Linked DNA regions of Homo sapiens. The protein of the gene in region 1 binds, or shares a complex with, the protein of each later gene. Each region holds a gene or a part of one and is shown in the gene's direction. Other genes may lie near its edges.

What was found. The genes of interacting proteins can lie anywhere in the genome.
Region 2: the proteins of ASPH (region 1) and F10 are in contact, whole or in part, in a crystal structure (PDB 6Q9F), measured with the Homo sapiens proteins. Residues at the interface, in NP_004309.2 of Homo sapiens: Ala389, Glu390, Arg393, Ser394, Asn395, Leu398, Gln431, Phe432, Leu433, Gly434, Met436, Arg437, Val462, Leu465, Leu466, Ile467, Gly468, His493, Phe496, Ala500, Arg526, Phe529, His530, Arg562, Ser563, Leu564, Tyr565, Asp616, Glu617, Leu619; in NP_000495.1 of Homo sapiens: Asn97, Gln98, Lys100, Cys101, Lys102, Asp103, Gly104, Leu105, Gly106, Glu107, Tyr108, Thr109, Cys110, Thr111, Leu113, Glu114, Gly115, Phe116.

What each region holds. Positions count from the first base shown.
Region 1 is NC_000008.11:61,711,586-61,719,134, reverse strand, and holds the start of ASPH (aspartyl/asparaginyl beta-hydroxylase), read left to right. Parts: upstream 1-4,542; 5' UTR 4,543-4,763; coding exon 4,764-4,866; intron 4,867-7,549.
Region 2 is NC_000013.11:113,118,411-113,125,819, forward strand, and holds the start of F10 (coagulation factor X isoform 1 preproprotein), read left to right. Parts: upstream 1-4,388; 5' UTR 4,389-4,445; coding exon 4,446-4,515; intron 4,516-7,409. Other genes in the region: F7 (coagulation factor VII), read left to right, coding at 3-598. UniProt on the Homo sapiens protein: Factor Xa is a vitamin K-dependent glycoprotein that converts prothrombin to thrombin in the presence of factor Va, calcium and phospholipid during blood clotting.

The sequences.
Region 1 (7,549 bases):
ATTGCCATGACTGTAATTTCTTGTTATTCTCTAATGTTTGGCTTTTTCTCCATGTTTAAGTTTCTTTCTGGCATTAAGTTTGAGACTTAAGAAGAGTCAGTTAATTCCATCATTTCCCTGTGCTAGAAAACTCAAGAACTGGCAATAGCACTTACTTAGATGTTATTTGATAGAAAGGAACTTTGGCTCTAAGAAGTACCAATCTTGATAGGAAATTTAAAGAATTGAAAGGAAAAAGGAAATGATAGGTTTCTTAACTAATGTGACTTCAGATCATTTTACCATATCGTAACACAATAGTACTAACTCAAATCCATTTTAGACTGGATTTAAAATCACTTCTGCTCATATAAATTTATTCTATTTATTTATGATGTAGATATTAGTCAGGCTTATTTTTTCTAGATAATCTGAAGTCAAGCTGTTTGGTGAAAATGACAGTTCATTTACGTGTTGAGATATGACTCATATGAGGATAATTGCTTTGAAAACACTGAGTAGGGAATGCCTTCAAAATCCTCCTATACTTACCAATATCCTTTCGTTGCAACAAATTTCACTAATATAATATGAAAAACATATAAATGAATCATGACCAGTTGAAATTTATTGTTTTCCACTATGGTCTTACTATGGCAAATAAAGATGAGGAAATACTCAGTTCCAGTTTGCAATAATAAAACTTCACAGTAGGAAGATTGCATAAAAATGAGAGGCATTTTCTAGGAAGCAGGTTAAAGTGGAATTTTTAAAACGATGCTATAGTAGGTATAAGTAAGTCCAGAAATATTAATTTGGAAGGAATTTGACTGGAGGTTGTAAAGGGTCATCAGAATGGAAAAAAAAGAAGTAGGGCAAATCGTGTCCTCCAGTTCTCACTTGCAAATCCCACTGAAGGCAGTGGAAGGTTTATGGAAATACCTGAAAGACACATTTGACCTAGTTCAAAAGCTCTATTAAATTAGTATTTTAATAAATTGTCCTAGATAAGTCTTGTCTTTATGGTCCTTTTAACATTATTTCACCCATAGTTTGCTTGAAAATTACAGAAAAGAGGAAAAGCTAACAAGGGACATTTGACTTCTCCTTTAATTTAAAAGATACTAAGATACTTTGTCTTTTTCACAACCATGCTGAGAAAATGTCCTTTGTAAAGAAATATATGAATCCTAAGTAAGCTTTGCGTTTTTTGATGCCCATAATATGGGAAGTACAGACAGATATAAAATGTATAGTTCTGTTACTTAGCTTGAGGGAATTCAGTCCCTGAAATGAAACTGTGTCTAGAACTGATGGCATCTGATTTAAGTTTTATTCGATAATACTGAGCACATAAATGTTATCATAGTTGTTTCCTCAGGATACAAGAAAGCGCTAGGTAGCCTCTTTCTTTCTGTGATTCATATTTACTAAAACCTCTATTTTGGCCTGATATTGCCCAAGATACACAGCAATGTACCTTGTCAGGGGTACCAGATTTAGTTTCTGGAAATGCAGGAGCAAAGCATCACTTAATGGCATTTTGGAGTTAGCTATAAAACAAATTTGATTTCCTTAAAAAGATAGGCTTTGATAAGCACTTACCACTGGGTTTCAGACCTATCTTTGAAGGTAGGACCAAGGAGGCTTCCTGGAGACATCCATTAACCGAAAAGGGAGCCAGGTGAGACTTTCTCCACTCAAAACTATGTCTTATCCAGGAGGAATAATTTGGAGTATAGACTCTGGAGCCAGTCCAACCAAGTTCACATCCCTCCTCTATCACTTACTAGCTTTGTGACTGTCCCAGCCACTCCAGCTGTGGCTGAAAGGCTCCAACGTACAGCTCAGACTGTGGCTTCAGAAGGTGGAAGCTCCAAGCCTTGGCAACTTCCACGTGGTGTTGAGCCTATAGGTGCACAGAAGTCAAGAATTGAGGTTTGGGAACCTCCGCCTAGATTTCAGAAGATGTATGGAAACGCCTGGATGCCCAGGCAAAAGTTTGCTGCAGGGACAGGGCCCTCATGGAGAACCTCTGCTAGGGCAGTGCAGAAGGGAAATGTGGGGTCAGAGCCCCCACACAGAGTCCATACTGGGTCACTGCCTAGTGGAGCTGTGAGAAGACTGCTACCATCCTCTAGACCCCAGAATGGTAGATCCACTGACAGCTTGCACTGTGCACCTGGAAAAGCCGCAGACACTCAATATCAGCCCGTGAAAGCAGCTGGGAGGGAGGCTGTACCCTGCAAAGCCACAGGGATGCAGCTGCCCAAAACCATGGGAACCCACCTCTTGCATCAGAGTGACCTGGATATGAGACCTGGAGTCAAAGGAGATAATTCTGGAGCTTTAAAATTTGACTGCCCCACTCGAATTCAGACTTGCATGGGCCCTGTAACCCCGCTGTTTTGGCCAATTTCTCCCATTTGAAATGGCTGTATTTACCCAATACCTGTACCCTCATTGTATCTAAGAAGTAACTAGCTTACTTTTGATTTTACAGGCTCTTAGGTAGAAGGGACTTGCCTTGTCTCAGATGAGACTTTGGACTGTGGACTTTTGGGTTAATGCTGAAATGAGTTAAGGCTTTGGGGGACTGTTGGGAAAACATGATTGGTTCTGAAATGTGAGGGCATGAAATTTGGAGGGACTGGGGCAGAATGATATAGTTTGGCTGTGATCCCATTCAAATCTCAACATCAAATTGTATCTCTCAGAATTCCCATGTGTTTTGGGAAGAACCCAGAGGGAGGTAATTGAATCATGGGGGCCGGTCTTTCCTGTGCTATTCTCGTGATAGTGAATTAATTCTCATGAAACCTAATGGGTTTATTGGGGGTTTCTGCTTTTACTTCTTCCTCATTTTCTCTTGCCACCTCCATGTAAGAAGTGCCTTTCACCTCCTGCCATGATTCTGAGGCCTCCCCAGCCATGTGGAACTGTAACTCCAATTAAACCCCTTTTTCTTTCCAGTCTGGGATATGTCTTTATCTGCAGTGTGAAAACGGACTAATACAGTGACCCTACTTTGTTTTATCTCTCTGAGCTTCCAGTATCTAATTTCTTTAAAAAATTGATATGACTACAGGGTTTTGTGAGAATTTAAGGGTAAAAATATCTTTGGTGTGGGGGGTGGGGGGTGGCTAGAGCATTGTGTTTTGAAATTTAGCTCTCATTTTTATTTTATATGAAGCACCATCACTCAGATTTATTTCTTAATCCAGTTCTCCACCTCCTTCATTGAGATAATATAATAGAGGGTTGTAAGGGGGCCCTGAATGGGAGAAAGGATATATGGATGCAGAAGGAGATGCCACAAGATAAAAGCTGAGAGAGCTACTTCAATAAAAACTCTGTGAACTCTCCCCTCCCACCGTCTCTTGATAATAGCCTAACACTATTTGACAAAAGGTAAAGAAAGGCATTCTCTTTATTCTGCAACATGACCTTTGGGGGGTTTCTGTGCATCATCAGGGCAGGGTCAAGCAGCATCCAACCATCCACAGGTGAAAAGGCATGGGGCCGGGGGGAGGCGGGAGTGCTTCTGAAGGCGCGGGTGGGTGGGTTTGTGGGGCTGGAAAAGAGGAATGAAACCAGATGCCACAATGCAACTGCTCTCTCTGGTCCCTGAGCCCTCCTGAGACACTCCCAGGGGTTGCTACGAAACATGATCAAGAGCTGTGGGTTCAGCAATTGACAGAAATGTATCAAATCACTAAGCATTTCTTGCTTGCCTGTTACACATTGGGCATGGTGTTAGCAATGGTGACACAAAGATGATAAAGACGTCGCTGATCTCAAGTCCTTGTCTGGTTCAACCACGTGCCAAGACATTTTAATACTCTGTTGGGAATTCTCAGGCAGCACAGGCCCAGGCGTTAGCAAAGCAGCCAGGGATTTCAGACAGAGGGTGCCATCCAGGGTAAGAAAATGAACTTTTTGTGTCACATTTGCATTTTCATTCCTTAACTAAGAGTATCTGAAAATACTGATGGCACAAACGAACTAAATTCCTGCTTCAGCACCAAATGGATGAACTACTACGGTTTAAGCATTGAACTAGTCCTAATATCACCATTCCAGAAATGTCTTAGTATTAATCAGGACAAGAAATAGGGATCTCTTTCGCAAGAAGCGAGACTGCACTCCTTCCTTTCCTTGTATACGGAAAGGGGACAAAATCCACAGTGAAAGGCCTAGAAGCGGCGCACTCCGCCCACGGGCGGCCCACGTGTCCACCTATTCCGCACCGCGCCCTGTCCCATCCCTATGGAGCGGGGTCTGCCAACGCTCGCGAGAGCCCTCTCGGCTTCCACGTTTGCCACGTTCCAAAGGACCGAGACAAACTGGAAAGCCGAAAGAGGCTCGCGCTCACAGGCAGCTGCGTAGCGCCCGAACAGCCCTAAGTGAGCAGGGGCGGGGAGCGCGGCAGGGTACCGCCGCCTCGTAAGGGCCCTTGCGATTGGGTCCCAGGCGCCGTCACTCAGCCTTCCGGGGGCGGGGCGAGGCCGGGAAGGGGCGTGGCCGTCGGGCGGCGAGCCGCGCGCTCTCGCCCCGGGAGGGAGTCACAGGTTCGTACACGCGAGGCCGGGCGCGCGCAGCCGGCAGGCGGGTGAAGTCTTCCCAGGTGCTGCAGGCGGTGCTGAGGCACAGGGTCTGCTGCAGGAGCAGCGGCCCGAACCCGCTCCAGCGGCCCGCCGCCGCCAGCGGTTCCCGCGTCGCGTGTGTACCCCCGCGCACTGAAGGAGGTCCGCCAGCCCTCACCAGCCCCCGCGGACCGTGCAATGGCCCAGCGTAAGAATGCCAAGAGCAGCGGCAACAGCAGCAGCAGCGGCTCCGGCAGCGGTAGCACGAGTGCGGGCAGCAGCAGCCCCGGGGCCCGGAGAGGTCAGAGGCCCTGCGGGGCGGGGATCTGGGGCCTCGCCTCGGGGTAGGGAGCCGGCTGGCGCGGCGGACGCTGCGGGTGCATCTCCCCAGGTCCCACCGCGCGCCGCCTCCATCCCCCGCGACGCTCCTCCTTTAGGCGCGCGGGGCGGAGGCCGCATTCGGCGGGCCTGGCGGGCGGGCGAGGGGCCAGGCGGACCGGGGTCCGAGCCCTCGGGATGCTAGTCTCGGGGAGCCCCTTCCCAGCGGTTCCTTCACCTGCAGGGCGCAGCCGAGACAGAGGTTGCTGAACGACTGTTTCTTGGCTTTCCGTGGAATTGAACATGGGAGTAAGAGAACAATTTATCGTTTGCCTTGCGTGTTTTGGGGAGTTGAAAATGAGCCAAAGTCAGGGAAAGTGAGTTCCTGCCTAACCAGCAGCGTTTCAGAGCAACTCAAAGGAGGTGAAAATGGGGGCGCCGGGGGGCAGGGGGAGGGAAGAAGTTGGGAGTGATTTGAATGCTCTCAGAAATTATTTTAAATATTTTTGCTTGTATGTAGCTTTCTTAATATGCGTTGCAGTTGCCTTTAAAATAGAATGTCATGAAATACTGAACGAGCGTCTGTATTTTTACCACTTTTACTTAAAATAAAAATCGATTGGATATTCACCTTTCTCCTCGTCCGTGTGCATATCCAGCAGAGAGAACAGATTTTTAAATCTGTTTCGTCTCATATTTCAGTGATTCTTGGTTTCTTTTATACTTCCTTTGACTCATATTTGGGATATTGAAACTGCAATACACATGTGTATGGAATGTGAGCTGTAAACTTCACTTGAAGTGATTTAGACTCTTTGTTTTCTGAGATCTTCAGATCATGCATTCATAATATACCAAGAAAATGAATCAGCTATAGTCAAAGAAGTATTTTCTTTATAGCACTTGTCACTATCTGAACTTGTCTTATTACTTTCATGTGTGTTGTCTTTGGCTCATTCTCTCTGTATCCCCAGCTCCTAGAATGTTCCTTTCCCATAATAGGTGCTCAATAAATATTTGAGTAGTGAATGAATGAATGGATTTAAATGGGGAAAGTAGTGCATTAAATCCATTGCACAAATTTACATTCTAAGGACTAATATTTGTATTCTAAAAGTAAAGATGTAGACACAGTTTGAAGTTCAATGCAAGCATATTAATTCACCTTTGACATAAGTGAAAGTTTGTGTTCCTTTTTCACTTGTTCTTAAATGTCACTTACTTAAACCTGCAGAGGGATAGATTAATTGCCTCAGCCGACTGAGGCTACTCTTTTTTAACATCCCTAAATGAGAATGGGTTCTTCTCATTGTGCCTCTAAGGGCACTAAGCAGAGAAAGCTGATGAACAACTTTAATGTTAGTTGTTTTCAAAAGGTTTCTGTAGCTATTTGCCAGAGAAGCATGTCTTCGTTCCATTTCATTTTTGTGTTTATGAGGAGAGGGCTGATTGCATCTGAGGGAAGTCACTTTATATGGCCTCTTATTGGTGAGAACTAATACTGGGAAATGTGTCTCACGTTTCTAGACCTACCCCATAACTATTTGAAGCATTTTAACAGGCAAGAGATAGGTTTAGAAAATGCAGTAACTTAAATTAACTTCTCCTGACTTTCATAGTCAGGCATTTTAGAACAAACTCTGCCCATATTTGAGGATCTACAGCCTTTTAAGCATTTTACACGTTGATTCTCTAATAGTCATGAAACAGACATAGTATGTAAAAGAATATGTAAAAGGGAGGAATGCCCGTGATACGAAAACAAAAGTTGATATTGGAACCCTGCATGTGACGTAATGAGTATTCTTTATCCGCATATCCGCAACCTTTTCTTTTTTTTCTCCAGTAGATACTGAGTTCTTACTGTGTGCCAGATAGAAGGCACTGGGTATGGAAACCATTTCCTTCCATCACCCTAAACAGTTAAAGTACAGTGTCGTGTATAGTAGGCTGTACTCGAAAGATAAAGCCGGCTTTTCTTTTAATGCTGTTTACCTGGTCATTAAAGTACGGACGTTGTGCGAACCATTTCCTTCTACTGGGAAAATCAAAGACTTTTTAGCAGTGTCATACTGTGAGACCCATTTAGTTTCCTGCTCAAATCATACAGATGAGGAAATTAATGCCCAGAGAAGTTGCCGAGTTCATTGAAGGTTGTTTAGTTCATGGAAACTCAACTAATTACTGGAAGAACCGAGACTAAGAACCCAGGTTTTGTTATTCATTTTGCCATGCTTGAATTTTAGGTTCTCTAGTATGTAATTGGAGTTGAACTAGATTATCAAGTTTTCTTCTGGCTGTCTCCATGAGTACTACATTTAATTATTGGAGAAAACTATGCTTTTGTCCTATCACCAATTACATTTCCCTTGACAAAAATTCTATTTGAAACACTATTTGAAATTTTAGTTTGAGAAGAAGTATATGTGTTCAAATAGTACGTTTTTTGATATGTCTTACATTGAGAGTCAGAAAATGACGGCATTGGTCACATTAAACATTATTATTTCTTAAGTTGTTGTGTAAACGTATGGGGAAAAAAGAACCCAGTCATTTGAAACATGCATTTTAGGGAAAAGGTGATTTCTTTTTTTTTTCCTGGCCAAACTTTATCTTGGTGGTTTTTTTGCTGAAAAGTGATGTTTGGAAGCTGGAATTTGGGGAAT
Region 2 (7,409 bases), on another chromosome or scaffold:
AGGCGAGCACGACCTCAGCGAGCACGACGGGGATGAGCAGAGCCGGCGGGTGGCGCAGGTCATCATCCCCAGCACGTACGTCCCGGGCACCACCAACCACGACATCGCGCTGCTCCGCCTGCACCAGCCCGTGGTCCTCACTGACCATGTGGTGCCCCTCTGCCTGCCCGAACGGACGTTCTCTGAGAGGACGCTGGCCTTCGTGCGCTTCTCATTGGTCAGCGGCTGGGGCCAGCTGCTGGACCGTGGCGCCACGGCCCTGGAGCTCATGGTCCTCAACGTGCCCCGGCTGATGACCCAGGACTGCCTGCAGCAGTCACGGAAGGTGGGAGACTCCCCAAATATCACGGAGTACATGTTCTGTGCCGGCTACTCGGATGGCAGCAAGGACTCCTGCAAGGGGGACAGTGGAGGCCCACATGCCACCCACTACCGGGGCACGTGGTACCTGACGGGCATCGTCAGCTGGGGCCAGGGCTGCGCAACCGTGGGCCACTTTGGGGTGTACACCAGGGTCTCCCAGTACATCGAGTGGCTGCAAAAGCTCATGCGCTCAGAGCCACGCCCAGGAGTCCTCCTGCGAGCCCCATTTCCCTAGCCCAGCAGCCCTGGCCTGTGGAGAGAAAGCCAAGGCTGCGTCGAACTGTCCTGGCACCAAATCCCATATATTCTTCTGCAGTTAATGGGGTAGAGGAGGGCATGGGAGGGAGGGAGAGGTGGGGAGGGAGACAGAGACAGAAACAGAGAGAGACAGAGACAGAGAGAGACTGAGGGAGAGACTCTGAGGACATGGAGAGAGACTCAAAGAGACTCCAAGATTCAAAGAGACTAATAGAGACACAGAGATGGAATAGAAAAGATGAGAGGCAGAGGCAGACAGGCGCTGGACAGAGGGGCAGGGGAGTGCCAAGGTTGTCCTGGAGGCAGACAGCCCAGCTGAGCCTCCTTACCTCCCTTCAGCCAAGCCCACCTGCACGTGATCTGCTGGCCTCAGGCTGCTGCTCTGCCTTCATTGCTGGAGACAGTAGAGGCATGAACACACATGGATGCACACACACACACGCCAATGCACACACACAGAGATATGCACACACACGGATGCACACACAGATGGTCACACAGAGATACGCAAACACACCGATGCACACGCACATAGAGATATGCACACACAGATGCACACACAGATATACACATGGATGCACGCACATGCCAATGCACGCACACATCAGTGCACACGGATGCACAGAGATATGCACACACCGATGTGCGCACACACAGATATGCACACACATGGATGAGCACACACACACCAATGCGCACACACACCGATGTACACACACAGATGCACACACAGATGCACACACACCGATGCTGACTCCATGTGTGCTGTCCTCTGAAGGCGGTTGTTTAGCTCTCACTTTTCTGGTTCTTATCCATTATCATCTTCACTTCAGACAATTCAGAAGCATCACCATGCATGGTGGCGAATGCCCCCAAACTCTCCCCCAAATGTATTTCTCCCTTCGCTGGGTGCCGGGCTGCACAGACTATTCCCCACCTGCTTCCCAGCTTCACAATAAACGGCTGCGTCTCCTCCGCACACCTGTGGTGCCTGCCACCCACTGGGTTGCCCATGATTCATTTTTGGAGCCCCCGGTGCTCATCCTCTGAGATGCTCTTTTCTTTCACAATTTTCAACATCACTGAAATGAACCCTCACATGGAAGCTATTTTTTAAAAACAAAAGCTGTTTGATAGATGTTTGAGGCTGTAGCTCCCAGGATCCTGTGGAATTGGATGTTCTCTCCCTGCCACAGCCCTTGTCAATGATATTTCACAGAGACCCTGGGAGCACCTGCTCAAGAGTCAGGGACACACGCATCACTAAATGCAAGTTCCCAGGCCCTGGCTGCAGTGGGAGGACCTGGCAAGCTGCACTCTTGCTGAGTCCCCAGGGTGGTGGAAGAAGAATGAGAAACACATGAACAGAGAAATGGGGAGGTGACAAACAGTGCCCCCACTCAGACTCCGGCAAGCACGGCTCAGAGAGTGGACTCGATGCCATCCCTGCAGGGCCGTCCTGGGCACCACTGGCACTCACAGCAGCAAGGTGGGCACCATTGGCACTCACAGCAGCAAGGCAGGCACCAGCAACCCACCTCGGGGGCACTCAGGCATCATCTACTTCAGAGCAGACAGGGTCTATGAACTACAGCCGTGGGCTGCTTCCAAGGCACCCTGCTCTTGTAAATAAAGTTTTATGGGAACACACCCATATTAGTGTCCATGGAGTGGCCGTGGCAGAGACGTCCAGCCGGACAGACCAGCTGACCCGCCAAGCCCAGCATGGTTAGTGTCAGGACCTCTGCTGAAGATGCTTGCTGACCCTGGCCAGACCCCGGTTCCTAATGCCCCCTAAACGGGACGGGAGCCAGTGGCGGGCCCTGATCCAGGTCAGAGCTGGCTCTGCTTTCTCTTTTGTCCGAGTGACCATGCCTCAGTTTCCTCATGTGTAAAACAGGAGCCCACCGTGATGCTTATGGTGGGATGAGATCAGCATGGATGGAACAAGGCCCTGGAAGGGCCCATGCCATGGTCATCGACAGCAAAGCCACTCTGCAGACAGATGCTTCAGTGAATTGGTAGAAAATTCTGCAACCAGAATGCCCGGGGCTCCTGAGGGCCTAAGCCCAGCCCAGGGTTCTGGAAGCCACTCTGACTTCTTGGGAGTGGAAGTTGGCAGGACTCTTCCTGGGAAGAAGCGGAGGGTGGGGATGAGAGGACAGTTCAGGAGCCCACCCAGACCCACAGGAGGAAACTAGGGGAGTCATGCGGGGTCCTGGTGGAGCGCCAGCCTCCCTTCCTGCCAATGGGAAATGCAGGCGCCCACCTCATGGTGCTGCCGGAGGAGGGGGCCCGGGACTCCCCAGAGGCTTCGCTGAAGGGCCTGGGCGCCCCCAAAGGCTACATGTTTCATATGGGACGTGCCACCTGCCACGGCTCAGCTCCAGCTTTCTGTGAGTGGCGAGATAGAATACGGGGAGGCCACTGGCCATGGGCCTGGGACAGGGTGGGATGAGGCGGCAGGCTTGGGCCACCAAAGCCAGCATCGCCACCCAGCATTGATGACAAAGACTGCGTGTCTGCCATGAGCATCCTGCTGTTGGTGCACACACCGCATTGGTCTCTCCATACAAACATGCCTAGAGGCGATGTCAGAGGGTGGAGACCAGGAGAGGCAGGAGTCAGACATCTGGTGCCACCAGGAAGGCCCTTCTCAGAGGACCAGGCTGTGCGTGGTGCCCGCCGTGGGAGGCCAGCCTGGCGTTGGCATCCAGCATCATCAGTTTGTGCAGTCGGGTGGGGCTCAGTGAGTGCCTCCTGTGTGCCAGGCACAATGACGCACAATGTGTGCACACCAGGCTCATGTGCAGGTGGCTGCGAGACAGGGCGACCCATCAAGGCAGATGCACCATGAGGCAGTGGCCAGTGCTGTGGGTGTTAGGGGCATTGCTCCCCGGCCACTACGGCATAGCAGGCAGTGATCGCCACACTGGCCAAGCTTTAGACCATTTATTCCAGAGACCCCAGAGGCAAAAAGCCCGGCTGCACCTCCCAGTGACTCCCACAGCCATTGAGCAGAGACACTCAGGACCTTGTGATGGGAGGTTTCTGCACTGGAGAACGAGCCCAGAAGCCCTCTCAGCCTCGGAACAGTGTGGCCAGTGGTGGGCAGGTCAGGAGGGGCTTCAGACACAGCCTGTCCCTCCAGATGGTCACGGGAAGGTCACTCCCCACAGAAGTACGTTTTGGGGCCATGCGGGCACAGAAGGTTTGGGGGTGGGTGGGGCAGGTGCCAGCCTGGCCTGTGGGAGGCCATGGTGCAGATGCCAAGCCCCCCCCGTGACATGAGACCACCTGATACCACCCAGAGAGTGGCTGTGAGCGGAAGGGCCCGCCCAGAAACAAGCAGGGCCTTGGGGCAGAAGTCCTGGGCTCAGATCCCACGCTCACTGCCAGCGGCCTCGGCTCAGGCTTCTGCGCTCTCTAAACTTAGTTTTCTCTTCTGGAAAAATGATGGGGAAAATGATATTTGTATGTGAGGACTGAGAGTTAAATGTAAACATCTGGAAACTACAAAATGAGCACGAAATGATGTTTTTATTCTTAGAACAGAAAGTCCCCACACCCGCGGCCCTGGTGACTGATGAGGATGAGGTTCTGCGGGGCCTCTCTGGCCGCCCAGCTCTGCCTGGGGAAGGTGGGGCCAGAGTGGATGTGTTCCCAGCGTGGTCACTCCCCTGCCTCGCCAGCAGGTCTCGGCTCCAATCAGGAGGCCTAAGCCAAGTGATAAGCAGCCAGACAACAGCCATCCCAGCTGGGGCGTGGACTTTGCTCCAGCAGCCTGTCCCAGTGAGGACAGGGACACAGTACTCGGCCACACCATGGGGCGCCCACTGCACCTCGTCCTGCTCAGTGCCTCCCTGGCTGGCCTCCTGCTGCTCGGGGAAAGTCGTAAGTGCCCCTCGCCCTTCAGACCCAAAAGCAGCGCCAGGGAGCAGGGAGGGGCGGCAGTTGGGGAAACCCTCTCATCTCTGCAGCCTGGACGGTGGGTGCCTTGAGTGCTGCCAGAGGCTGGGCTCGGATGGCTGGGCTTGGCCTTTCCAGCCAACGGCATCCTCAAGGCCAGCTGTGGCTCCCTGGGGCTGAGAGTCAGACGGGCGGATCAGAGGTCACAGAGACAAAAACACAAGGACAGAGTCAGAGAGAGAAAGGGAGAGGGAAGGAGAAACGGAGACACAGTGAGATGGGAGGCCAAGAGGCAGAGACAGAGGTAGAAAGACGGAGACAGAGAGAGAGGGAGGGGTTGGGGCAGGCAGAGACAGGACAGTTAGCCATCTGCCACCACAGGGAGGCACAGGACGAGGGGCACAGCAGAGGAGCTCCCAGGGAGGAGGAGGCTGAGCCGAGCCAGTGCCACCACTCTCGGACTGGCTCCGTCGGGGAAGGAGCTGCCTAATGCACAGCTGGACAGGTGGGGGCAGCAGGGCTGTCCAGGACCCCCGGGTCTGTCCAAAAGCAGAGGCCCAGACAGGACAGAAGCCAGGCAAGCCTGGGGACAGCGGAGGAAGAGGAGGCCCCTCTGGTGGGGACACGAGAGACAGGGACCCTAGACTTGTTTGCATCCTGGACAAAGTGGACAGGCAGGGGCACCAAGGGGACCCAGGCCTGGGAAGGGAATGTGTGAGGGAGAGACGGAGCAGGGGGAGACCCTCGTGGGGTGGAAAGGGGAGACCCCTGGGAAGGCTGAGTGGATCCTCAGTGCATCACTGACCTAAACGGCCCCTCCGCCTGGTGACTTGGAGCTCCAGTCACATCACACGGGGGTCTTCTCCATCCCACCCTCAACCCCCTGCCCTCCCCAGCCTCTGTCCCCTGAGCCACATCTTCCTGTCTCCCACGCGGAACGGGACTCCCGTCTTCATGGGGTACTGTGTGGCTCCAACTCGCCCAGCCTTCTTCCTCCCCCTCAGGCCACACTGCCCCCTGCAGGAGCCCACTGTGATGCTTGTGGTGGGATGAGATCAGCGTGGGTGGAACAAGGCCCTGGAAGGACCCATGCCATCATCATCGACAGCAAAGCTACTCTGCAAACAGACAGATGCTTCCGCGAATTGGTAGAAAATTCTGCAGCCGGAATGCTCTAGGATCCTGAGGCCCTAAGCCCGGCCCGGGGCTCCCGAGGCCCTAAGCCCGGCCCGGGACTCTGGAAGCTGCTCTGGCTTATTGGGAATGGAAGTTGGCAGGACTCCTCTTCCTGGGAAGAAGCAGAGGGTGGGGATGAGAAGACAGGCCAGGAGCCCACCCAGACCCACAGGAGGAAACTAGGGGAGTTATGCAGAGTCCTGGTGGAGCGCCAGCTTCCCTTCCTGCCAATGGGAAATGCAGGCGCCCACCTCGCGGACCTCTGGGTCCACAGGGTATTGGCACCCTTAGCTGTGTGATGCGGGCCTGGCTCATAACCATGGCCTGTGGTGTCCCCGGGGGCCGGCCTGGACCCTGGGTGGACATGGCCAGCCCCGGAGAGCCAGGGCCAGGCCATCTCTCTCCCCTACTCTGCCTCAGAGGCCTCGGCAGCTGCACTGTGGGGTGGGTGGGGCTGAACACAGGTCCCAGAAGGTCCCACTCAGGACCCTGCTGTGCACACTTTTGATTTTAATAAAATCAGAATGCGCACAGCATCTGCAGTCTAGCCTTTAAACGAGCACAGCTGTCCTGGCAGTCACGGAAGTTCTTCTGGGGCGGTGGGACCTCAGCATTCCTTTGCTGGTACTGCTACAAGAAAGGACAATGGACCAAGTAGCTTAAAGCAACAGAAACATTTCTCCCACAGCTCTGGAGGCTGGAAGTTCAAAATCAAGGCGTCAGCGGGGCTGGTTCCTCCAGAGGCTGGGAGAGAGTCTGCTCTAGGCCTGTTTCCTGGCCTCGGGGTGCCAGCGGCCTCACAGCCCATGGCTTGTGGGAGCATTGCTCCCATCGCTGCCTCCATCATCGCATGGGGTTCTCACCATGGCTGTTTTTCTGTCTTCTTTTCTCTCAGAAGGACACCAGTCATTGGATTTAGGGCTCACTCTACTCCCATAAAATGTCTTCCTAACTAAATACATCACAAAAGTTCTATTTCCAATTAAGGTCAGGTTCTGAGGTTCTGGGAAAGACATGAATTTGGAGGGACATTATTCAGCCCTGTCCTGCCACCTGTGAGTGTTTTCTGCAATCCAACTTTTTATTTTAATAAAATCAGAATACGCAGAGCACCTGCAGTGCCAGCCTTTAAACTACTGCTGTTGTACTGGCAATCATTAAAGCTACGTGGCTTCAGTTTCAATCTTTACATTCAACAAGTTTAAACCCATTCTTCATGAGTTTGGACCTTACTGACTGAAAATTTTGCTTGCTGGTAAAACTTGCTCAAATGCAGTTGCTGACTGTGGAATTCACTGATGTTGCCAAAACAACAAACACAACTGTGTGCTCGAGGATTGCAATGCTCCCAACAGCTTCTGAAGAAACAAACCACACGACAAATGTCTACCAATCTGGATGCTCCATATCAGAGTTCTAGAGTGTTCCATTAATTTCTTGAGACAAGTGCCTAAAAACCTTGTTTTAATTTCGTTTTGCCAAAATCCCATTTTACTCACATCAGAAAGTGTGGCCACGTGGCCCAGACCCGGCCTGCTCAGTCTGACTGAAGCGTTGATGCGACTCAGCCATAACAGATAGCAGAAGCGCCCAGATTCAGTCCAGAGGGCTGAGCCAGGCACGCCATCTTTCCTTCATTCCCTCAACACATATTGGTTAAGTTCCGGCCGTGCTAGGCACGGGCATACAGCTGTGACCAAACA